Linked DNA regions of Homo sapiens. The protein of the gene in region 4 interacts with the protein of the main gene of each other region in a biochemical or structural test. Each region holds a gene or a part of one and is shown on either strand. Other genes may lie near its edges. The genes, in order: GTF2A1, GTF2F1, GTF2E1 and TBP.

Region 1 (7,605 bases), on a different chromosome or scaffold from region 4:
AGTTTATTCATCTGTAAAATGCACATTTCTATAGTCCCTACTTTAACATTCTAATTCTATATATAAGGAAAGTATATCTGACTATGGACATCATCTTGCCTAAAGTGACTTAACTGAATTACAAAAGTATCTCTATAAAGTGCTTTTTTTTTTTTAACCAATAATTACTCCTCGAGGCGTTAGGAGGGCAATGTATTTTAAATTGGGAGTATAAATCTCAAATTGACAATATGTATGCTTTTCAGTAAACTAGATGGTGTTTTGGCGTTTCTGAAGTCAGTTACCTCTAAAAACCTTTTGCTTGGAGATCCAGACATGTGTAGGTATAAATCTGCTTTCTTCTAGTACTCTCAACTTAATAAATCATTAAGATTTTATTTTTGTGCCTTAATGAACTCACAACTTGACCACTTAACAGCTTCATAAGCCCTATAGGTGAAGGAAGGGAAATGTGTATTCTTCACAAAATATATGCCTAACGAGTAATTTAGCAGAATTGTTCACAATTTGAAAAGCCTTCAAGATACTAATTTTTGAAAAGTATGTGGGCACATAGGAGTATTTGAAATAAGCAATTTCTAAATTATTGCTTAAAATTCTACACTAATACTTGAGGCAAAGTTTCTTTCACGAAATACAATTTAAGTTTGTCCTAATTTTTAAAAAACAGGTTATTTCAAACTTAAGAACTGGTAAATCAGAGGGCCACTAGTGGCATTATTAAGTCATTTGTTAGGTTTCCTTCAAAAATGTTAATTCCCTGATGCAATGCTGGAAAATAAATTGGAATAATTTTTATACCGGATACCCATGTTAATATCCAAGGCAATAAAGTTCTACTTAGATTTTTTTTTAATCTAGTTTGCAGTCTGTCTCTTCCCTCTACTCACGATTCTCCTACACATAAATGGTCCTATACTGAAGCTTTAGGTACTTATCTATTTCTCTGAAAAGCCTCGTGTCTTTTATATTTACTATAGGAAAACATAATGAAATATTAGGAGCTATATTTCTAACATTATTTCCTGAATACTTGAACAAAACACTACCAAAACCAAGTCCTCTGCAGCTAACATTTTCCATGTAGAAAGCAGTTTTTTAAATTCCCGAAAATAATGCACATAAGAAAAATGGCTAGACCATCTGATCTAAAACTCTTTGTTTTAAATAATTAATTTTGAAAATTGTAAACAAAAAGGGACAGCGATTCGGATATATTCCCCCTAGCAAACAAAGAAGGCAAATCCTAGCTGCTGCTGGGAACAAAACCAAAACTTGGGGCTCTGAAAGCAGCCCGCGACGGGTGCGAAATCACAGGGTGAAAAAAGGACCTAGAAATAAACTGAGCTCTGCACACGCCTGGCTCTTGCCTCGGGAGCACGCACCTCCCAGCCCCGCTCTCAGCAGCTCTCACTATTTAAAGCCGGATCTGGTGTTTAAATGGAGAGGCGGTGACGTAGGCCTGAAAAGCACCTTCCCATCCTGGCAGAGTCTATATTAGAGAGCGGCAATGGCTCTATATAAACAGGGCAGCCAAAGGGAGGAGGACCACAAGGCTCAGGGACTGAAAAGCAGGGTAAGCGGCCGCAGCCATGATGGTTAGACCCGAGTCGCCAACGGTACGGTGTCGGGCGGCCGCGGGCTGGTCTGCGGCATTTGGGACCGGGCAAAAAACGTGTTTTATTGTCATCATAAAAATAAGAGTTGGGTGGACTAGTGATCACACTGCGTTGGTGACTGAAAAGGTTATTTATGTGACTGCTTTTTGCAAACCTACGTGATCGCAAGTAACAAAAAGGGACCAACGGGAAGAAGTAGGTAAATTTCAAGGCGAAAGCGGGGACACTTGGACCACTGCAGGCTTTTTTTGTTTGTTTTGGTGCTTCTGCTAGGCGAAGATACGATGGGGGTCTTCCCCTTCGCCATTTTACCCATTCGGAAGGAACTGAGATAAGTGCTTTTCAACCAACCTTCGTCCTTTTTTTAAACATAAAATGGCCTCAGAGAAGGTTCCCAAAGCACAGCCGCCAAAAACAACCTAAGAAACCCCCAAAGTAACCATTAATCTTCCACTGCATTAAAGTGGATCACGATGGGTCTCGGGGGTTCGCCCGATTCCCCACACACAGTTTTTGTTCTGTAGCCACTCGGGGAGCCCTCGTCAAGCCAGCGCGGACGGGCCCCTCGGGGGGAAGCGGCGGCTCCCCTCCCGCCCTCCCTCCCGGCGGCCGGGTTCTGGGGCCGGGGCTGCGCGCCCGACCGGGCCCAACCGCCTCCGCGGCCCGGCCCGGCCCGCGGCGGCCCCAGGCCCCACCGGCGCCCCCGCCCTCCCCGCGCCGCGAGCCCTCGGCGCCCCCCCGCGCCCGCCGCCCGGCGCTCCGGCCCGATCCGCCCGAGGCGGGAAGCGGCGGCGGCGGCGGCCGCGCGGGCGGCTGAAGAGTCGAGGCCGGGAGTCGCCGCCGTCCCCGCCCCCGCCCGGTCCGGCCGTTGCTGCAGCCTGAACGAAGCCCCCGCCGGCCACCGAACCACGTCCTTACCACGGTGTTTGTATTTGCCGAGTTCGCCATTTCCACACACAACACAAACAAGAGGGGGCAACCCCAAGAAAACAAGATAAAAACAAAACCAAAAAAAAAAAAACTATAACACCCGGAGGGTGACCCAAATCACCGCAAGATTGGGGAAAAAATTTTAAACAAAATCAATCCTGAAGGAGTAGGGGAGAGCGGAGAGAGGAGGAGGAGGGGGGCACTCCTCCCGCAGCTGAAAACCTCGAGAATCGCCTTAAAAAAAAAAAAAAAGCCACGACCCTTCAGGGGTCCGGGGGGCGTTGCCCGCTCCCCACCCCGCGCCAAGGAGGGAAACCACCACCGGTCACCGCTCCCTGCGCCGCCGCTGCCGCCACCGGCTGCAGCTCCAGCCGTCCGGTCCGCCCGCTTCTCTCCTTTATATAGCGAGCCAACAAGCTGCGCGAGCCACCACCGCCGCCGCCGCCGCCGCCGAGAGACAGGGTGAAGGGGGAGGGAGGGGCGGAAAGGGCGGGGGCAGAGGTGGGCGGGGCTGAGCGCGAGACACCGCGAGAGCCGCGTGCGCAGGCGCGCCGGGGCGGAGGCCGCCGGCGAGCCGCGTTGTCACGCGCCGTGGCGGGTACTGGACTGGCGGAGCCCGGGGAGTGAAGTAGTGAAATCGGACCTACGCCTCTCCAACGCTCGCGTGATCACGTGGTTGGCACCCAGGCGGAAGTCTGCGGCAGTTCTTTGCGGTGAAGAACTTGCAAAGCGTTGCTGGAAAAGACGGGAGTTCTACTGACACTCCAGTCCAAAGCTAGGTGGGACCGCCTCCTGTCGCACGTTTCCGCCTGGTCCCGCGCTTTAGGAGCTAGGAAATGTGACAGAGGCGGTGCCTACTGCCTCGCTAGGAATGGCCGCGGAGGAGGACTGGTCACGTGGCGTGGCTTCCGGCCTCTGGCGCGTTCCTATTCGGGAAGGTTTTAAATGCGGAGTCATCTCTTGATTTGTCAGCGAGGCTTTGACTGTGAGCTTCGCGGCGTTCGCGCCTCACCGCCTCACCGAGGGTGGGTCTTTCGCGCGCAGAATTGTGTAGGATTTTCCAAAGGGAGTAAAAGCCGATCGGGGCCTACTTTTAACATTCCACAATTAGTAACGTCTGATTCGTTTGTTTCCACAGTGGGTACGCTGCGAAGACTAGGCTTATGTTACCCAGAGGTTAGTCCTCTACTAGGCCACGTACTTTAAATAATTTATCACGCTAGTGGAAATGCGGGGTGGAAGAAAACCCCACCAGCCTTTGGATTGTAACAGCACAGTAACTTTCCCTGGTTTTTAAAAATATTGCCAAAATACTGCGACTCCATGTGGCCAACGTATAGTGACTGATCACTTTGAAATGCATGCCCTTGACCCACCAACTCGCATGGCCTCTCGCTATAAGAGAGCAAGCCGGCTGTGTTCCATGTTCAATTCAATAAGTGCAATTCAATAAGCTTTTGACTTGTTCTGCCCAAGCAAATCCTGCCTTTATATCGACCTTGCAAGCAGAACAGAGAATGCTGTTTGGAAGGCAGAATTCATAGTACCTAGTTTTCTTGTCCCTGGGAATTTTGAGGGACTTGAAATGTCGCGTGGATGAGTGAGGGAGTTTGTCTTCCAGAGACAAAGCAAAACGAAACGTCAAAGTTCTGTGCTGGTGAAACCAGATTTGAAGAATATCAAAGGCGTCTTACCAAAGAGGAAAAAAAATGCATCTTGCCAAGACTTGAAGAAAGGGATTAGAGAAACCAGAGGCCTTGAATACTCAGAAAATGGGAGATTGTGAATGGGTGTAGAGGATATCTATGAACCTTGACATTTCTTTTCACGCCAAGTCCATTCCCCTGTTAACAGTTGCTTCCCAGTTTCCTGCACAGCTGCATGGTCTGGGACACTTAAAGAAAAAAATCACAGGAAATCAGTGTTCTTGGTATATTATATAAAGTTATGATTCTATCAACATTTGTAATTCATTTAATATTCAGGTGACAGCCCGAAAATTTACACTAAACAATACCATTCCTGTTAAGTTTTACTACATATTGAGAGGACTTCTTGTTACCTCCCTATTACATACTCCCAAACGCTTTGCACATGGAATCCCTCACCTTCCACCTAGTTTTCCCCCCTACTATTGATATTCTTGACTAAAAGGTTGAGTAGTTTCGCCATCAATTAAAGTTAAAACCACTGCAGACAGGACAGGGAAGAAAAGCTACGAGGTTTGCTCTTCACAGAATTAATCTGTGAAATAATGGATTGTAGTTACTGGATTAAAATGGCAGAAAACCTAGTCTTGGCCTCCTTAAGACCATCAGACTCCCTGGAGGCTCTGAGTTGGCTTCTCTCTTTACACCTAGATTGCAACAAGACCTAAGCACTTGGTTAATATTTACCCAGGAACTTAGATTGCTTGTGTGTCTGGCATCTAGCCATCATGGATTCCATTCCAATATATTGGTTTTCCAGTCCCTCAATAGCTGTTATATGCCTTCATTGCAACATATGTGTGCCATCCAGTTTAGTTTCGGAAAGAAATATTTTCTGTTATACCAAAATTGTAGGACTGAATACTTGGAAGCTGCAGCCCTTTAATTCACAAAACAAAATTTGTGAGAGAAAACTTCTCCCAAGTAAGATTACATTTAGCATCATATTTAAATTGTTTCTATCTGAACTTTTTATTCTTGGTCTCCTACAGCTTGAATGACGTTTCTAACTTTAACAGCTCTTTCTACTATATAAAACATTTATACAGGATTTGCTGTTTGTGATCTTACACTTTGTAGCAGCTATGTACTTAGATAGATACATAATAGTACTCTCCTTGTGATGAATGTTTATGTGTTTTTTTTAACTTCAAAATGATTTATACTGGGAGTTAAAATGTTGCGTCTTTCTTTTAATATGCAGCCTAAACACTAGATAACTGTAAAACAAGAGAAGAAAAGGGAAAAAAAATCGATGTATAAATTTTGCTACACCATCAACAAAATGACAGCAAACCTTCTGTGTCCAAACATTTAAATATTTTACTGTCCAAATGACTATTTTAGCAACAATGCCAAGAAAGAGAAGAGTCTAAAAAGATTGTGGAAATTGGCTTAAACTAAAATCTTGTGACTTCCCAGCAAACTCCATTTTCTTAAATAGTGAAGAAAGAAAAAAAACAAAACTAGTTTTGAGGCATATTTAGGCCCTAGTGCTCAGTATGTATTGGGCACTTTGTATGTATGTATGTATGTATGCTCAGTATGTATTGGGCACTTTGTATGTATGTATGCTCAGTGTGTATTGGGCACTTTGTATGTATGTATGTATGTATGCTCAGTATGTATTGGGCACTTTGGGAGGATACAGAATTGAAGAAGAAAGATGCCTTGAGCTTACTAATCATTTTTTTTCTTTCCTTCTTTTTTTTTTTTTTTTTTTTTGAGACAGACTCTTGCTCTGTCATCCAGACTGGCATGCAGTGGTGCGATCTCGGCTTACCGCAGCCTCTGCCTCGTGGGTTCAAGCTATTCTCCTGCCTCAGCTTTCCAAGTAGCTGGGATTACAGACTCACACCACCACGCCCAGCTAATTTTTGTAATTTTGGTAGAGACGGGGTTTCACCATTGTTGGCCAGGCTGGTTTCAAACTCCTGACCTCAGATGATCCACCTGCCTCGGCCTCCCAAAGTGCTGGGATTACAGGCGTAAGCCGCCGTGCCAAGCAAGTTTACCAATCTTAATGAAAGTCCCTGTTTTAAAGTGTAGTGCATAGTCATAGCATTCATTTAAGCTGTTGAAAGCATACATATTTCAGTCCTACCAAAAAAAATTATACTGCATTCAGATTTCACCTATGTTTTTGTCATTTTCAAAGAAACTGCCGATTTTCACATGCACAAATTTTTGATGGTGGCTATAAGAAATTGCTGACCATACAAATTAGTTCTATACATGTGATGAAGAGATTTTTTAAAATCTTTTTAAATTATCTTTGTCTGTTGTAACTTAGTTTGAAATTGCTACTTCATGTCTTAAAACACCAACCAGCTCTAAGTTATTTTCTGTAGAACAAAGTGTAGACCAGTTTGTAGTTTTTAGCAAAAGTAAATTAACTTAGTGTGGAGTTTTGGTGGAATCAGGTTTGACTCTTGCCACTAAATTCCTGTGTGACATTGTGCCATGATTCTGTGTCAATAAGGTGAAATAATCACCACCACCTATCGTTGTTGGAAAATCAAAGGTAGTAGGAAGTGCTTTGACAAGTATTTGGTGGGTGTTTTATTATTAATGGTAACTGTAACAGCTACACCAATATCATCAAAGCTGGGGAAAGATGTTCTTAAATCACTTTGTAGAACACTACCATTACATTTTAATCATGATGGCTGCATGTTGTGGTTCATGCCTGTAATCCTAGCACTTTGGGAGGCTGAGACAGGCAGATCACTTGAGGCCAGGAGTTCAAGACCAGCCTGGCCAACATGGCGAAACCCTGTGTCTACTAAAACTGCTAAAAATTAGCCAGGTATGGTGGCATGTGCCTGTAATCCCAGCTACTTGGGAGGCTGAGGCATGAGAGGCAAAGGTTGCAGTGAGCCAAGATCGTGCCTGGGCACCAGAGCTGGAGACACACTCTGTCTCAAAAAAACAACAACAGCTGGGAGTGGTGGCTCAGGTCTGTAATCCCAGCACTTTGGGAGGCTGAGGTGGGTGGATCACTTGAGGTCAGAAGTTTGAGACCAGCCTGGCCAGCATGGTGAAAACCCATCTCTACTAAAAATACAAAAATTAGCTGGGTATGCTGGTGCCTACTTGTAATCCCAACTACTCAGGAGGCTGAGGCACGAGAATCACTTGAACCCAGAGGCTGCAGTGAGCCAAGATTGCACCACTGTACTCCAGCCTGGGTGACAGAGCGAGACCCTGTCTCAAAAAAAAAATTTTTTTTTAAATAATGATGTCAGTGGCCAATGCTTACTTTACAAGAAACTCAGCCAAATTTTGATAACTCAAGTGGTGAATATCTAACAGCATCCCAGCCTCACAATGCATTTTAAAACTTG
Region 2 (4,126 bases), on a different chromosome or scaffold from region 4:
GCTCACGCCTGTCATCCCAGCACTTTGAGAGGCTGAGGCAGGCAGATCACCTGAGATCAGGAGTTTGAGACCAGCCTGGCCAACACAGTGAGACCGTGTCTCTACTGAAAACACAAAAATTAGCTGGGCATGGTGGTGCATGCCTCTAGTGCCAGCTACTCGGGAGACTGAGGCAGGAGAATTGCTTGAACCCGTGAGATAGAGGTTGTGTTGAGCCGAGATCACGCCACTGGACTCCAGCCTGGGCAACAGAGAGAGACTCCGTCTCAGAGAAAAAAGAATGAGAGTCAGGCGAGGCCGCCTGGAGGAGCAGTGATGTCAGTCAGGAGGCAAGGCCAGAGCCCGGGAGAGCTGAGCCATGGCCCTTCTTTTTTTTTTTTTTTTTTTTGAGACAGGATCTCTCTCTCTCTCACATGGGCTGGAGTGTAGTGGTACAATCACAGCTTACTGCAGCCTTGACCTCCGAGGGTCAAACGATCCTCCCACCTCAGCCTCCTGAGTAGCTGGGACTACAGGCGTGCACCACCACACCCGGCTAATTTTTTTTTTTTTTTTTGGAGACAGAGTCTTGCTCTGTTGCCCAGGCTGGAGTGCAATGGCGCAATCTCGGCTCACTGCAACCTCTGCCTCCCAGGTTCAAGTGATTCTCCTGCCTCAGCCTCCCAAGTAGCTGGGACTACAGGCATGCACCACCATGCTGGCTAATTTTTGTATTTTTAGTAGAGATGGGGTTTCACCATGTTGGCCAGACTGGTCTCAAACTCCCGACCTCAGGTAATCTGCCTGTCTCGGCCTCCTAAAGTGCTGGGATTACAGGCGTGAGCCACCACGCCCGGCCTAATTTTTGTGTTTTTTGTAGAGACTGGGGTCTCACTCACTGTGTTGCCCAGGATGGTCTGAAACTCCTGGGCTCAAGCCATCCTCCCGCCTCAGCCTGCCAAAGTGCTGGGATGACAGGCATGAGCCACTGCACCTGGCCTGGCTGTGGCCTTTACGGGGGTTCCTATGAGAAACTGCAACTCTAGGTTGACCAGTTTCAATAACTCCTGTGCGCTCCGGGCTGTAGGGGCTGTGTCCCTGGTTATCAGGTGCCTCGCCCGGGTGGTCTGGGAGAGGGGGAGTGGTCTGTGAGCGCTAGAGAAGGTGGGTGGGGGTGTGGGGTCTGCCGGGAGTTTGTTTAGGAGAGCTGAGCTCCTGGGCTGGCCCTGGAGGTGTAGTCTCCCCAGTCAGTGAGGCCCCCCAGGATGTCAAAACTGCACAAAATGTGAAAAACACAATAAATACCCACTGCCTTCCTCCTCACTTTCCCTCCTTTCCTTCCTTTCCTCCCTTCCCAGGGGGCAGAGTCCCCAAGGCCAAGAAGAAGGCGCCGCTGGCCAAGGGCGGCAGGAAAAAGAAGAAGAAGAAGGGTTCAGACGACGAGGCCTTCGAGGACAGCGATGATGGGGACTTCGAGGGCCAAGAGGTGGACTACATGTCAGACGGCTCCAGGTGAGGCCGACGGGAGGCGCCTGCGAGACCCCATGCAGCCTCGCGAGCGCGCGCTCATCCTTTGCCATCCCCGTCTTACAGTAGCTCCCAAGAAGAGCCTGAGAGCAAGGCCAAGGCGCCGCAGCAGGAGGAGGGGCCCAAGGGTAGGCGATGGCTGGGCGGGCCGGGGAGATGGGGGCGGTGCTTCCCTGCTCTTGCTCATACCCTGCCCCTCCCAGGTGTCGATGAGCAGAGCGACAGTAGTGAGGAGAGTGAGGAGGAGAAGCCGCCTGAGGAGGACAAGGAGGAGGAGGAGGAGAAGAAGGCACCCACCCCGCAGGAGAAGAAGCGCAGGAAAGGTGCGGCGCATGTGGCCCCCATATTGGAGGCTTGGGTCGGGCCCTGGCGCCCTGCCACCTCCTCCCCTCTCCCCTGCAGGCCTCCCTCATCTGCAGTGGAGGCACCAGTGGGCACCGGGTCCCGGGGTTGCTCTGGCCCTGACCCCTTTCCTGTGCCCCGCAGACAGCAGCGAGGAGTCGGACAGCTCAGAGGAGAGCGACATTGACAGCGAGGCCTCCTCAGCCCTCTTCATGGCGGTAAGGCCCAGCCCGGTGGCGGGGGAGGCCTGGGCGTCTGTTTGCAGACTCACCCACCTCCCAACCCTGACCTCTGCAGAAGAAGAAGACGCCACCCAAGAGAGAGCGGAAGCCGTCGGGAGGGAGCTCAAGGGGCAACAGCCGCCCAGGCACGCCCAGCGCAGAGGGTGGCAGCACCTCCTCCACCCTGCGGGCGGCTGCCAGCAAACTCGAGCAAGGTGAGTGCCCGTGGCCTCCCCGCTCCCCACAGCCACAGCCACAGCCTCCTGACCTCTGTTGGGGCTCAGGACAGAGAGGGGATGGAGATGCGGGTGGAGGCCTGTCTCTCCCTGATCCCCTTGAACCCTAATCCTGGCACTGCCCAGCCTGGGGTCCTGCCCAGGGGTTCTGCCTCCTGCCTGCAAGACTCAGCCCTGACCCCACTCCCACAGGGAAGCGGGTGAGCGAGATGCCTGCAGCCAAGCGGTTGCGGCTGGACACGGGACCCCAGAGCCTGTCTGGGAAGTCGACACCCCAGCCACCATCAGGCAAGACAACACCCAACAGCGGGTAAGTTGACGAGGACAGCAGGGGGCAGGGCAAGGGCTACTGGGGACAATCTCACTGATGCCACCTTCCCCGTCCTCCCATCCTCAGCGACGTGCAGGTGACTGAGGATGCCGTGCGCCGCTACCTGACACGGAAGCCCATGACCACTAAGGACCTGCTGAAAAAGTTCCAGACCAAGAAGACAGGGCTGAGCAGCGAGCAGACAGTGAACGTGTTGGCCCAGATCCTCAAGCGACTCAACCCCGAGCGCAAGATGATCAACGACAAAATGCACTTCTCCCTCAAGGAGTGAGGCTTGGTCCAATACATGGCTCTGCCCCCCAGAACTTAAGGCTCTCACTGCCCCTTCGCCATCCTAGAGTGAGGCTCTGTCCAATACATGGCTCTGCCCTCCAGAACTTCAGGCTCTCAGTGACCCTTCGACATCCTGCTTGCTCCCTGACTCCCAGGGCCCCGTAGTTAGCAATTCTGGAAAAGTTAAGCCATCTCCTCCTCTGGCCCTTCCTTCTGGAATCTTCAGATGCCTGTTAGGCCTTCTTATTGTCCTCCTCCTCCTGGCTCGGCCTCCCTCACACTGACCAAGGGCCTGTGCTGCCCACTGGGTAACTTCTACAGTTCTCCCTTCCACTTCCCTAAGTCTCTCTTCAGCTGTGACTTATCCACCACATAGCCCAGTAAGTCTTCAGTTTTGGCTGGGCATGATGGTGAGCGCCTGCAGTCCCAGCTACTTGGGAGGCTAAGCCCAGTTCAAGGCTGCAGTGAACTATGATGGTGCCACTGCATTCCAGCCTGGGTGACAGAATGAAATCCTGGCACAAAAAAAAAAAAAAAGTAGCCAGGCATGGTGGCGGGAGCCTGTTGTCCCAGCTGTTCCGTAGGCTGAGGCACGAGATTCACTTGAACCTGGGAGGTGGAGGTTGCTGTGAGCTGACACCACGCCACTGCACTCCAGCCTGGGTGACAGTGAGACTCTGTCTCAATAAATAAAAAATAATAATAAATTGCTCAGATTTCTTTGTTTCCTTTTTAGATCTGCTACTCTGTTTGGATAATGTCTTATTCCTTATGTTTTGGTCCCATCTTTCATGGTTTTATTTTTATTTATATTTTAGGTTTTGAGACAGGGTCTTGCTCTGTTCACCAGGCTGGATTGCAGTGTCCACCGTCTTGGCTCCCTGCAACCTCCACCTCTTGGGCTGAAGCGATCCTCCCACCTTAACCTTTCAAGTAGTGCACACCACCACGCCCAGCTAATTTTTTAATTTTTTGTAGAGGTGAGGTCTCACTGTATTGCCCAGGTCAGTCTTGAACTCATGGGCTCAAGCAATCCTCCCACCTCAGCCTCCTGAGTAGCTGGGACCACAGGCGTGTACCATTAAATGCCTGGCTAATGTGTTTTGTTTTTGTTTTTGTTTGAGACAGAGTTTCACTCTTGTTGCCCAGGCTAGAGTGCAGTGGTACAATCTCGGCTTACTGCGACCTCTGGTTCCTGGGCTCAAGCAGTTCTCCTG
Region 3 (7,033 bases), on a different chromosome or scaffold from region 4:
CACAATTGTTTCAGTTTTAGCTTTATTTCATAAAATACTTTCATGCCCTCTACCCTAACTCCTTGATTCAAGTCACCTTGACTGTACTGGATGGAATGTTAGGCCATCTCTTCCACAGGCCATCTATTGAGTCAACTAGTTTCATTCAGAATCCAGGTGAAATTCAAGAGTATCATGATCAGTCTCCCAAATACTGATATATAAGTAGTGGAATCATCTCCTTTTAGAAAGTTTAATTAAATTAATATGACTCAAATGACAAATAAATGTAGTAGAAGCATGTTATTTTAGATTACTCTAAGGGACTGGATAACACCTTCTACTGTGGTCAAGAGTGATGAAGCCTCCACTGTTAAAACCAACATCTGTAGAGAATTACAAAACCAAGAACCCAGAGCTCCTGTAAGAAATCTGTTAGAGTGAATGGCAAGAATCATGAGACTTTTCTAGTCTATTTTGAAGAGCTCCAGATATATTCTACAACCTTCCTCTATAGAACACTCAAGCAATTCTCATACCGAGGATGGTTAAGACTTTCTTATAATCAAGATCTCTCCTTGTGGAGCCCTTTCAAGGTAAAAAGCTCGGCTCAGACAAATTAAATGTTTAATACAATTGTGAATTCCTTAAATCAGTTTTCATCCAAAATCATTGCCTCACAGTAAATAAGAAAAAAAGGTCACAGATTGCTTCTGGCTCTTTTTGTCAATAATCTTAATTTATATTGGGGTTATTTCCCACTTAAAAATTTTTTTTAATTATTTAAAATGTACCATATATAACATAAAAATTAGAAAATAAAACATACACAGAAATCTGTAATTTTGCACAACCAAATATTTCATGGGTCAAAGTTTAAACTTTCAGACGAAGTTTTTAAAAAAGCAGATCTATGAACTAAAAAGTAGCCTATACTCCTGAATTCAACCATAACAAAGGGACTTAATCTAATTTAATAGCACTGAGTCCTTCTATAGATTTTTACCTGTAGAAAATAAGACAAAATTGATCGAGTATTTAGCAAAACTAGTCTCTTTTTTATTGTGTAAACAGATAACAAGATAAAATAACTATATAACTCAGAACTTTAAAGTTTCTCATGTTTATGCTAGACATATTGTATTTTCAGATAATGCATGCTTTCTAAATTGTGTTATGAAAAATCCTTAAAACTATTCAATCAAATCAGGCCAATTATATATCTTGTTGACAATTTTCTTCCAACAATAATGTGTATCTAAAGGACACTAAATGTCTTATCTTGGAAAGAATTCCCCTCTTATTTCATCTAGCTAACTCTTACTATCTTTTAGGTCTCAAATGTTAACTTCTTCCAGAGGCCTTCCCCAAATCCAGATTATATGCCCTAGTTATATACTCCTGATACCACTTTCTACTTCCACTAACAAAGCATTTAAATACACTGTATTGCAACTGTCTAGAGGTCAAAAATAAAATTAGAACAGCCTCAAAGTGGTAGAGAAATCAACCCTTCAGATTAGGCTGCAGTTGTAAACAAGGTGGGGTGGGCAGAGGCAGGAGGGCCATAAGTGAGAAACTCCCTTGTAAAGGAGAAACGCTTTGCAAAGGCTTCTCAAAGTAGTGCGACAGCCAAACAGGACAGTAAGACTGACTGTATGCTGTGATTTACACTGATCCATTCACTTTTATAATAATATATATGATGGTTTAAAAATTAGATGAATCAATTTAAGAAAAAAGGTAATACACACTTTATTTTAAAGATTCACAAACTGGATAAACCTCACCTGTCATAGGATCAAAGAGCTGATTAGCTTCTAAGTCTGTGAAAGTACTACTACAGACAGGACATTTGAAGGAAGCCCGGTTGGTCGAATCTCTCTCATCGGTCTCAATTCTTCTTCTCATGTGGTCCAGTTTATATTTTACCACATTAACAAGAGTACGATAATTGATGAAGTAGTAGTTATGGCGAGTGGTTTTCCCGTCTGCAGCAGTCTCTACCCTCATTCTGCATTTGATAAACTTGTCTCCCTTTAAATTATTCAAAACTGATCGAAGTTGCTTCCGATCAAACTTGAGCAGCTCCAGCATATCCTCCTCTTTCACACAGGAGTTCCTGATCAAGATGTCCAAGGCCAAGGCATGCTCAATGCCATAAAATCCCCGGATCACATACTTGGCTAACCGCTTCAATGCTGCTGGAACTTCAGTGAGGACATCTGGGTCTGCCATCTTTAGCAACGAACTCCAACTTTAAATATACTGAATTCAAAAAAAAACAGAAAATTAGCCAGGTATAAGAACATGGTAATCATATCCACTATCCTTGCAGTGCCAGAAAAGTACCCAAAGTGTTTAAAAAGATTTCTAATACCTAAGCATTTAACAGAGCAGAACAAGATTTTCCTCTAGAATGCACAAAAGATTACACCCAAAAAGCTTTACATATTTCTTAAATGGCTACTTTTATGATCTATAGTGTGTTTGATTAAAAAGTAACTTTTTATTTATAAAACAATATATTACGTCAAGTCTACTTTACTTCAGAAGAGAAACACAAAAAAAGCTACATGAAATGCTCACTATTCTTTGGGAATGCTGGAAACCCTGAGAAAACTAGCAGTTCGCATTTCCTAAAAGTGTCTTTGTTTCCTTTCTTGAGTAAAATTTTTCTACCAAGATTCTAGGATGTTTTACATAGTCATGCTTTCACAATAAAATCACAACAAACCAATAAACACATGAGTAATCACCACCTGGGGTGTTTGACAAAATCATTAACTGTTGTAAAACTGAAAGAAAGTAATACTTAGATCCAGACAGTTTTACCAACCTTGAAAAATTGAATCTGATAATCAAGGAAAGACCATCCAGTCCTTAAAAAGGTAGAAAATGAGGGAGGGAGAGCAGCCCAAAATATTCTTAAATACTGGATCCCTTGACAAAGCAGAAACTAAGTGTATCTCATTTCCGTACCATGACCCAGAAAGCTGTCTTCTCAAAGCCCACATTGGCATATAGTTTACTTTAAAAACCTGGGCTTCGGGCAGAGACACAACCAAAAAGGAGAATTTTAGACCAATATCCTTGATGAACATTGATGCAAAAATCCTCAATAAAATACTGGCAAACCGAATCCAGCAGCACATCAAAAAGCTTATTATCCACCATGATCAAGTGGGCTTCATCCCTGGGATGCAAGGCTGGTTCAATATACGCAAATCAATAAATGTAATCCAGCATATAAACAGAACCAAAGACAAAAACCACATGATTATCTCAATAGATGCAGAAAAGGCCTTTGACAAAATTCAACAACTCTTCATGCTAAAAACTCTCAATAAGTTAGGTATTGATGGGACGTATCTCAAAATAATAAGAGCTATCTATGACAAACCCACAGCCAATATCATACTGAATGGGCAAAACCTGGAAGCATTCCCTTTGAAAACTGGCACAAGACAGGGATGCCCTCTCTTACCACTCCTATTCAACATAGTGTTGGAAGTTCTGGCCAGGGCAATCAGGCAGGAGAAGGAAATAAAGGGTATTCAATTAGGAAAAGAGGAAGTCAAATTGTCTCTGTTTGCAGATGACATGATTGTATATCTAGAAAACCCCATTGTCTCAGCCCAAAATCTCCTTAAACTGATAAGCAACTTCAGCAAAAAGTCTCAGGACACAAAATCAATGTACAAAAATCACAAGCATTCTTATACACCAATAACAGACAAAAAGAGAGCCAAATCATGAGTGAACTCCCATTCACAATTGCTTCAAAGAGAATAAAATACCTAGGAATCCAACTTACAAGGGATGTGAAGGACCTCTTCAAGGACAACTACAAACCACTGCTCAATGAACTTAAAGAGGATACAAACAAATGGAAGAACATTCCATGCTCATGGGTAGGAAGAATCAATATCGTGAAAATGGCCATACTGCCCAAGGTAATTTATAGATTCAATGCCATCCCCATGAAGCTACCAATGACTTTCTTCACAGAATTGGAAAAAACTACTTTAAAGTTCATATGGAACCAAAAAAGAGCCCACACTGCCAAGTCAATCCTAAGCCAAAAGGACAAAGCTGGAGGCATCACGCTACCTGACTTCAAACTATACTACAAGGCTACAGTAACCAAAACAGCATGGTACTGGTACCAAAACAGAGATATAGACCAATGGAACACAACAGAGCCCTCAGAAATAACGCTGCATATCTACAACTATCTGATCTTTGACAAACCTGAGAAAAACAAGCAATGGGGAAAGGATTCCCTATTTAATAAATGGTGCTGGGAAAACTGGCTAGCCACATGGAGAAAGCTGAAACTGGATCCCTTCCTTACACCTTTTACAAAAATTAATTCAAGACGGGTTAAAGACTTAAATGTTAGACCTAAAACCATAAAAACCCTAGAAGAAAACCTAGGCATTACCATTCAGGACATAGGCATGGGCAAGGACTTCATGTCTAAAACACCAAAAGCAATGGCAACAAAAGCCAAAATTGACAAATGGGATCTAATTAAACTAAAGAGCTTCTGCACAGCAAAAGAAACTACCATCAGAGTGAACAGGCAACCTACAGAATGGGAGAAAATTTTTGCAACCTTTTCATCTGACAAAGGGCTAATAACCAGAATCTATAACGAACTCAAACAAATTTACAAGAAAAAAACAAACAACCCCATCAAAAAGTGGGCGAAGGACATGAACAGACACTTCTCAAAAGAAGACATTTATGCAGCCAAAAAACACATGAAAAAATGCTCACCATCACTGGCCATCAGAGAAATGCAAATCAAAACCACAATGAGATACCATCTCACACCAGTTAGAATGGCAATCATTAAAAAGTCAGGAAACAACAGGTGCTGGAGAGGATGTGGAGAAATAGGAACAGACTTTTACACTGTTGTTGGGACTATAAACTAGTTCAACCCTTGTGGAAGTCAGTGTGGCGATTCCTCAGGGATCTAGAACTAGAAATACCATTTGACCCAGCCATCCCATTACTGGGTATATACCCAAAGGACTATAAATCATGCTGTTATAGAGACACATGCACACGTATGTTTACTGCGGGACTACTCACAATAGCAAAGACTGGGAACCAACCCAAATGTCCAACAAGGATAGACTGGATTAAAAAATGTGGCACATATACACCATGGAATACTATGCAGCCATAAAAAAGGATGAGTTCATGTCCTTTGTAGGGACATGGATGAAATTGGAAACCATCATTCTCAGTAAACTATCGCAAGAACAAAAAACCAAACACCGCATATATCTCACTCATAGGTGGGAATTGAACAATGAGAACACATGGACACAGGAAGGCGAACATCACACACTGGGGCCTATTGTGGGGAGGAGGGAGCGGGGAGGGATAGCATTAGGAGATATACCTAATGTTAAATTACGAGTTAATGGGTGCAGCACACCAACATGGCACATGTATACATATGTAACTAACCTGCACATTGTGCACATGTACCCTAAAACTTAAAGTATAATAATAATAAAATAAAAATAATAAAAATAAAAAATAAAATAAAATAAAATAAAAACCTGGGCTTCGGGAGGTGGAGGTTGCTGTGAGCCAAGATTACACCATTGCACTCCAGCCTGGGCAACAAGAGCGAAACTCAGTCTCAAAAAAAAACAAAACAAAAAAACAAAACAACACAAAACTGGGCTTTGAAATTCAGAGTACACAGCCTGTGTTTTGGTAACTGTGTAATCCTGAGCAAATCCCTTAAACAATTTCAAGCCACCTTTTACTCGCTAAGAAGTAAGGATAGTATCAACTACCTCAGTGGAGTTGTTGTGATTAATAAGAATATAATTAAAGTGCTTAGGAAGGACAGCTTCCATATCAACTTAACATGTTCCAAACTAAAAATGGCTAGACTATCCACACAGATTAAATCAAGTTAAATTTCCCTAGGCCACAGGGAATTTGTTTTTCTTTTCATAGAGAGAGTGTCTTGCTCTGTTGTCCAGACTAGAGTTCGGTGGTGTGACTTGGCTCAGTGCAGTCTCAACCTCCTGGGCTCAAGCAATCTTCCCACCTCAAACTCCCCAGTAGCTGAGACTACGGGTGGACACCACCATGACTGACTAATTTTTGTGTTTTTTGTAGTGACAGGGTTTCACCATTTTGCCCAGGCTGGTCTCGAACTTCTGGGCTCAAGGGATCCACCTACCTTGGGGGCTTCCTAAAGTGCTGGGATTACAGATGTGAGCCACCACACCCAGCCCACAGGATAATTTTTTTTTTTTTTGGAGACAGGGTCTCGATCTGTCACCTAGGCTGGAGTGCAGTGGCGCAAGCTCGGCTCACTGCAACTTCTGCCTCACAGGTTCAAGCAATCCTCCTGCCTCAGCCTCCTGAGTTGCTGGGACTATAGGCATGCACCACCACGCCTGTCTAATTTTTGAATTTTTAGTAGAGACAGGGTTTCACCATCTTAGCCAGGCTCCACAGGATAATTTTTAAGAGAGACATCCCATTGAACTATTTCAATGGAGAATCATATTCTGTTATTAATACTAGTTTCAACTAACCCTTTTATTTGAAATCAGTGGTTATCAACCCAACAGATTTAATACTCTTTTTATAAGAAATATTTTTATATCCACAGTACCATACTATAAGGAAACTCTATACACCAATCTATAACCAATCTATGCATATATTTTGGGGGGAAAATATAAGGCCCTTCCTGTAATAAAGGAAAAGTAAAAGTCAGTCAAAAGAAAATACGTACTTTAGGTTATAAATACTCAGGTATGACTACATATTGTAAGATATAACAAAGTAGCACCTAGATCCAAATCTGTGAACTTAGAGCCTTCCTGCTACCCCAGGGCTTAAGGATGCCTGGGAAGTACCTGGGCTCGACACCAAAGTAGTACCACAGCATACTACTGGACACACTTTTCTCTCCTTTTCGGTTTGGTCTATACATTGTACTTGAACCCCGTTTTCATTTTTTGTTGTTTTACATCCTCAACAGTTGTCAGAACACAACATA
Region 4 (7,033 bases):
TCATGCACATGTTGAGCATTTTATATAGATTATTCCATTTAATACATATAACGCACTGAGGTAGAAGTTACCAGTATTCCCACATTTGGATAAATAAGCTGAGGCTTAAAGGTAGAGTGCAACTTGCTCAGGACGCAATGGCTCCCAAGTGGAGGAGCCAGGATTTGAGTCTGTCTGTCTCCAGAGCCTGCCCTTAGCCTTCTCACAGACAAACTCAATTCTCATCTGTGAGCTCTGAAAAGCTACCACCACCACCCTATTCCTAAGTAACTATTTATAATGAAAACAAGCAGGCATGAACTGCCCAGTTCTCTCAAAGTAAGTATCTTTTGAAAAACAAGAGCTAAGTGTCTTTAGCAAAAAAAAAAGGCAAAACCCTGCTTTCTCTTCTAATTAACTCTCAGTAAATAAGGATAAATGGAGCCATCTGGGTCCACTGACCCTTTTCATTTCTCAGTGTTCTTAAATCACTTAACGAATAACTTATACAAGGATAAAGATATACTAAAAAGCAACTCTATTAGAAATTTTAATAAAAATTTAAACAACAAACCCACATTTTCATTATACATTTTTCTGCTTATGAAAGTATATATAGTTGAAATGGGCAATGCCCTTTGAATGCAATTAACTGCTCAACAACTGTCTCGCATGGACCTGGAAATCACCATCCCAAGAATATCGAGTCCAGATTTCAAATACATAGGTTCAAATACAATAGGTTTCAGCTCATTGTTGCTTCTGGTTCTTTTTCTTGTACAGTCTATGATACACAACTGTAAAGCCAATTAGGTTGATCCACACAATGAATGTTTTCATTTCCATATCATCTATTTCCTTCCAATCACCCTTGTATACACACCTGCCTTTAGCATTTGTCCACTTATGAACTATACCAAGTAGATTTTAGTATATCTATCACAACTTTAGTCACATAATTGTTAAATGTATTCTTATATATTTTCATTAATTAAATATTTACCTTAATCCCTCTTAAGCCTACAAGATGGAGAGGGCACTGAACTACCACCCGGGAGGGTTCTTAGTAGATAGTGGAAATTCAGGAATGTGGATGACTGGATGCTCTGGGGAGTATCAGAACAGCAAAGGCACTCGCAAGAAACAAACACCTGACTGTACTGTTTATAATTTATTATTTAAATCAGAAATGCAAACTTAAATATTCCTGGGAGTCAGACAAGCATGCTGGACACATGGGAGTGGTATAGACAAGGGTGAGCTAAAAAGGGCTCTCTCTAAAATCACTAAAATTACTTTGTTTTTAAAATTGTGTGTGGGGTCAAACAAAATTGTGGAGGCAAGATTTAGGTCTTTGGGTGAAAGTCAGCATCCACGATTACACACCACTTAGTTCCAAAAATGATGAGAGATAGCTTATAAACAACAACCATATATGTAACAAGGTGAATAAATGCAAATAGGAAATACTAGATCTAAAGGGAGTATGAAGGAGGAAGGTATCTGTACAAGAAAACTGAGGAGATGCAGAGACTGCAAGTAACCTTTTAATTTGGTCATAAGCTTTCTAAAATGAAAAGCTATACACTTCTTATTGACTGGAATTATTTGGAAATATTTGCTGGTTTTTCAGGAAGATGAAATTATTTCCTACCCCTACTACACTGTTACATATAGAACCCACTTCATTTAGGTAGAAAAATCCATTTATGACAAAAACAGTCGTCTTCATTTTGTGGGAAGGACACAGACCTTCAAAGATTTATATGCAGCACCCATAGTAAAAACAAAAAACAAGAACTACCAGAAATTATACTGATATTGTGACTAAAGACCTAAAATAGCATAAGGGAAAGAGACTACCTAACATTGTGATTTAGCGATATCAGATACAGGGAAATGTCTATAATATAATAATAACGACAGTGAAAGTCAGATTAAATTTTATTGGCTCAGGTATGTAAACACAAATGACCACATTTCTAAACCTGTTAAGAGCCTTTTACTGAGGACACTGACTAAGATAGCTTTGCTTCCCTTTCCCAAATGTGAGATAAAGCAAATTTTGATACACAATTACCGTTAGTGCCACTCCCTCCCTTAATAAAAGGATCCATCTGAAAACAGAGCAGGAACATAACTCAAAGGGACTCCTAAGTGGGAGGAAACATAAAACACGAAGTACTCACTGCAGCTGCGGTACAATCCCAGAACTCTCCGAAGCTGGCGTGGCAGGAGTGATGGGGGTCATGGGAGTCATGGGGGAGGGATACAGTGGAGTGGTGCCCGGCAAGGGTGCAGTTGTGAGAGTCTGTGAGTGGAAGAGCTGTGGTGCCTGGCCTGAGGTTCCCTGTGTTGCCTGCTGGGACGTTGACTGCTGAACGGCTGCAGCTGCCACTGCCTGTTGCTGCTGCTGCTGCTGCTGCTGCTGCTGCTGCTGCTGCTGCTGCTGCTGCTGCTGCTGTTGCTGTTGCTGCTGCTGCTGCTGCTGCTGCTGTTGTTGTTGCTGCTGCTGCCTTTGTTGCTCTTCCAAAATAGACAGACTATTGGTGTTCTGAATAGGCTGTGGGGTCAGTCCAGTGCCATAAGGCATCATTGGACTAAAGATAGGGATTCCGGGAGTCATGGCACCCTGTGGAAAGCAAGGAGAAAAACAGGTTAGGCTGGCTGCTGCTAAGTGTTTGTGGAACTTTCTTGGTGGAACAGCAGGTCAGGTGTGCAAAGACAGATGCCTTCGGAGAATAATGGGGTTATTAAACATTAATTACGGAAGAACCAGCTATTCTTATACACATTGCTTTCTTCTTTAATACCACACAGTGGATAAACATGAAGAAAAATGGATAAACTGAACTTCGGAAAAATTAAAAACTTCTGTTCTTTGAAAGACACCATTGAGAAAATTAAAAGGCAGGCCAGACTGGGAAAAAAATAACTATAATACATACATCTGAGAAAGGACTGGTAAACAGAATAATAAAGAGCTCTGACAACTCCATAAAAGAAGATCAACAAATAAAATAATAAAAAAGGGCAAAAGATGTGAAGGACATATTACAAATGAAGATACAGGCATACCTCGGAGATACTACAGGTTAGGTTCCAGACCATCTCAATAAAGCAAGCGGCATCAATTTTTTGGTTTCCCAGTGCCTACAAAAGTTATGTTAGCACTAAAGTCTATTAAGTGTGCAATAGCATTATGTCTAATAATATGTATATAACTTAATTTAAAAATGCTTTATTGCTAAAAATGCTAACAATCATGTGAGCCTGCAGCAAATCATAATCTTTTTGCTGACAGAGGATCTTGCCTCGATGTTGATGGCTGCTGACTGATCAGGGTGGTAGCTGTGGCAATTTCTTAAAATAAGACTGACGAAGTTTGCCACACTGACTGACTCTTCCTTTCACTGAAGATGTCTCTGTAGCATATGATACTATTTGACAGCATTTTACCCACACTAGAACTTATTTCAAAATTGGAGTCAATCCTCTCAAACCCTGCTGCTGCTTTATCAACTAAGTTTATGTAATATTCTAAAGTCATCAGTTCTTCACCAGGAGTCAATTCTATCTCAAGAAACCACTTTCTTTGCTTACTCACAAGAAGCAACTCCTCATCTGTTCAGGTTTTATCAAAAAATTGCAGCAATTCAGTCACATCTTCAGGTTCACTTCTAATTCTAGTTCACTTGCTATTTCCACTACACCTGCAGTAACTTCCAGCACTGAAGTCTAGAACCTCTCAAAGTCATCCACGAGGGTTGGAATCAACCTCTTCCAAACTCTTATTCATGTTGATATTTCACCCTCCTCCCATGAATCATGAACATTCTTAATGGCATCTAGAATGGTGAATCTTTTTCAGAAGGTTTTCAATTCACTTTGCCCAGATTCATCAGAGGAATCACTATCTATGGCAGCTACAGCATATGTCCCTCCCTGCTTCCTTTCTTTGAGACAGGGTCTCCATTGTAGCCTTTAACTTCTGGACTCAAGTGACCCTCCCGCCTCAGCCTCCCAAGTAGCTGGGACTACAGGCACATGCCACCATGACCAGCTAATTAAAAAAAAATTTTTTTTTGTAGCAACAGGGACTTGTTTTGTTACCCAGGTTGGTCTTGAGCTCCTAGCTTTGAGTGATCCTTCCACCTTGGCCTCCCAAAGTACTGAGATTACAAGCATGAGCCACCATGCCCTGCTGTATTTCTTAAATAGTAAGAATTGAAAGTTGAAATTACTCCTTGATCCATGGGCTGAAGAATGGATATATTATTTAAGCAGGCATGAAAACAATATTAATCTCCTTGTTCTTCTCCATCAGAGCTTGTGGACAACTAGTTACACTGTCAGTGAGTAATATTTTGAAATTAAACTTTTTTTCTGAGCAGATCTCAAAGAGCTTAAAATATCCAGTAAATCATGCTGTAAACAGACGTGCTCTCATCAGGTTTTGTTGTTCTGTTTACTGAGGACAGGCAGAGTAGATTTAGCGTAATTCTTAAGGCTCTATGGTTTTAGAGCAGAACATGAGCATTGGCTTCAATTTAAACTCACCAGCTCTATTAGCCCCTAACTAGTCAGCCAGTCCTCTGAAGCTTTGAGGCTAGGCACTGATTTCTCCTCTCTAGCTATAAAAGTCCTAGATAGCATCTTCTTCCAGTAGAAGGCTGTTTCATCTACATTAAAAATCTATTATTTAGTATAGTCACCTTCATCAATTATCTCAGCTAGATCTTCCAGATAACTTGCTGCTTCATGTTGCATTTTTATGTTGTGGAGAAGGCCTCTCTCCTTAAAGCTCTGAATAAACCTCTGCTAGTTTCAAAACTTTCTTCTACAGCTTCCTCTCCGCTCTCAGCCTTTACAGAATTGAAGAGAGTTAAGGCCTTGCTCTGTATTACACTTTGGCTTAAGGGGATGTGTGGGTGGTATGATCTTCTATCCAGACCATTCAAACTTTCTCCATATAAGCAATAAGGCTGTTTTGCTTTCTTATCACTTGTGGGTTTACTGGAGTAGCACTTCTAATTTCCTTTAAGAACTTTTCCCTTGCATTCACAACTTGGCTAACTATTTGGTGCAAGAGGCCTAGCTTTTAGCCTGTCTCAGCTTTCAACATGCCTTCTTCACTAAGTATAATCATTTATAGCTTTTGGTTTCAAATGAGAGATGTGCAGCTCTTCCCTTCATCTGAACACTTAATTAAAAGTCACTGTAAGGTTATTAATTAGCCTAATTTCCATATTGTTGTGTCTCAAGGAATAGGGAAGACCAAGCAGAGGGAGAGAGATGGGGGAATGGTTGGTCACGCTGCAGACATTTATCAATTAAGTTCCTGTATTATACAGGTGCAGTTTATGGCATTCAATAATAATTACAATAGTAACATCAAAGATCACTGATCACAATAACAGATAATAATGAAAAGGTTTGACTAGGCACAGTGGCTCATGCCTGTAATCCCAACACTTTGGGAGGCCAAGGCGGATGGATCACTTGCAGCCAGTAGTTTGACACCAGCATGGTGAAACTCCGTCTCCACTAAAAATACAAAATTTAGCTGGGTGTGGTGGCGCATGCCTGTAATCCCAGCTACTTGGGAGGCTGAGGCAGGAGAATCGCTTGAACACGGGAGATGGAGTTTGCAGTGAGCCAAGACTGCACCACTGCACTCCAGCCTGGGCAACAGAGTGACTGAAAAAAAAAATTAAAAAAAAAATACAAAAAAAAAGAAAAAAAAAAGTTTGATAACAATAACGGATAATAATGAAAAAGTTTGAAATCCTGCAAAAATTACCAAAATCTAACCCCAAGACATGAAGTGAGTACACACTTTTGGAAAAATAATGCCAACAGACTTGCTGGGTACAGGTTTACCACAACCTTCAATTTGTCAAACATGCAGTAAAGTGAAGTGCAGTAAAGTGAGGTGGGCCTGTGTATGAGTGGCTGACAAGCACTTGCCAAGGTGCTCAGAAACATTAGTAATCAGGCAAATAAAAATCAAAACCACAATAAGATACTACTAAGCAATCACTAGAGTGAAAGTAAAAAGACTGACAGCAGAAAGTGTTGGTGAGGATGTGGAGCAACTTAAATCTCTTATGCTGCAAAACAATACAGCCACTTCAAAAAACAGTTTGGCAGTTTCTTATAAAGTTATACATATACCAATATAGGACCTAGCAATCCTACTCCTAAGTATTTACCCATGAGAAGTAAAAACAGTGCATTCAAAGTCTACACAAATGTTTACAGTGCTTTTATTCGCAATAGCTCCAAACTGGAAAGACCCCAAATGTGAGCAACTGGAGAATGGATGAACTGTGGAACATCCAAACAATGGAGTGATACTTAGCTATACAATGGATTAACTACTGATATACAAACAGTACACTGGGCTAAGAAGTCAGACATACACAAAAAAGCATACACTCTGATTCCATCTATATGAAATTCTAGAATAGACAAAACTAATCTTCAGCATTGAAAAGCAGATGCAGTAGTTACCTGGGGCCAGCAGAGTGACTATAAAGGGGAAGAAGGGACTTTTTAAGGTAACTGAAATGTTCTGTAATTTATACATTATATATAATTATCAAAACAGACACTTAAAATGAGTTTTTTTGTATGTATATTTCAACAAAAGTTATTGATTTTTTTTTTTTTTTTTTTTTTTTTGAGACAGAGTCTCGCTCTGTCTCCCAGGCTGGAGTGCAGTGGCACGACCTCTGCTCACTGCAACCTCCACCTCCCGGGTTCAAGCAATTCTCCTTGCCTCAGCCTCCCGAGTAGCTGGGATTACAGGCACCCGCCACAACACCTGGCTAATTTTTGTATATTTTGTAGAGATGAGGTTTCACCACGTTGGCCAGGCTGGTCTCGAACTCCTGACCTCAGGTGATCCGCCCACCTTGGCCTCCCAAAGTGCTGGGATTACAGGCGTGAGCCACTGCACCCAGGCTGAAAAATTTTTAAAGTAGATGGGTGGTTGAGAGCTTGAAATGTAAAAGGGGAAAAATAAAACTAGAAAATAATTTGGTGAGGG

The links.
Region 1: the proteins of TBP (region 4) and GTF2A1 form a complex in vitro, tested with the Homo sapiens proteins (7 studies listed by BioGRID and IntAct, with this or other methods).
Region 2: the proteins of TBP (region 4) and GTF2F1 form a complex in vitro, tested with the Homo sapiens proteins (3 studies listed by BioGRID, with this or other methods).
Region 3: the proteins of TBP (region 4) and GTF2E1 form a complex in vitro, tested with the Homo sapiens proteins (3 studies listed by BioGRID).

Annotation. Positions count from the first base shown.
Region 1 is NC_000014.9:81,217,952-81,225,556, forward strand, and holds the start of GTF2A1 (transcription initiation factor IIA subunit 1), read right to left. Parts: upstream 3,009-7,605; 5' UTR 2,568-3,008; coding exon 2,538-2,567; intron 1-2,537. UniProt on the Homo sapiens protein: TFIIA is a component of the transcription machinery of RNA polymerase II and plays an important role in transcriptional activation. TFIIA in a complex with TBP mediates transcriptional activity.
Region 2 is NC_000019.10:6,379,062-6,383,187, reverse strand, and holds the end of GTF2F1 (general transcription factor IIF subunit 1), read left to right. Parts: intron 1-1,337; coding exon 1,338-1,491; intron 1,492-1,572; coding exon 1,573-1,634; intron 1,635-1,709; coding exon 1,710-1,829; intron 1,830-1,992; coding exon 1,993-2,066; intron 2,067-2,145; coding exon 2,146-2,284; intron 2,285-2,497; coding exon 2,498-2,615; intron 2,616-2,702; coding exon 2,703-2,907; 3' UTR 2,908-3,616; downstream 3,617-4,126. UniProt on the Homo sapiens protein: TFIIF is a general transcription initiation factor that binds to RNA polymerase II and helps to recruit it to the initiation complex in collaboration with TFIIB. It promotes transcription elongation.
Region 3 is NC_000003.12:120,745,737-120,752,769, reverse strand, and holds part of GTF2E1 (general transcription factor IIE subunit 1), read right to left. Parts: intron 2,248-7,033; 5' UTR 2,218-2,247; coding exon 1,770-2,217; intron 1-1,769.
Region 4 is NC_000006.12:170,557,369-170,564,401, reverse strand, and holds part of TBP (TATA-box-binding protein), read right to left. Parts: intron 2,612-7,033; coding exon 2,169-2,611; intron 1-2,168. UniProt on the Homo sapiens protein: The TFIID basal transcription factor complex plays a major role in the initiation of RNA polymerase II (Pol II)-dependent transcription.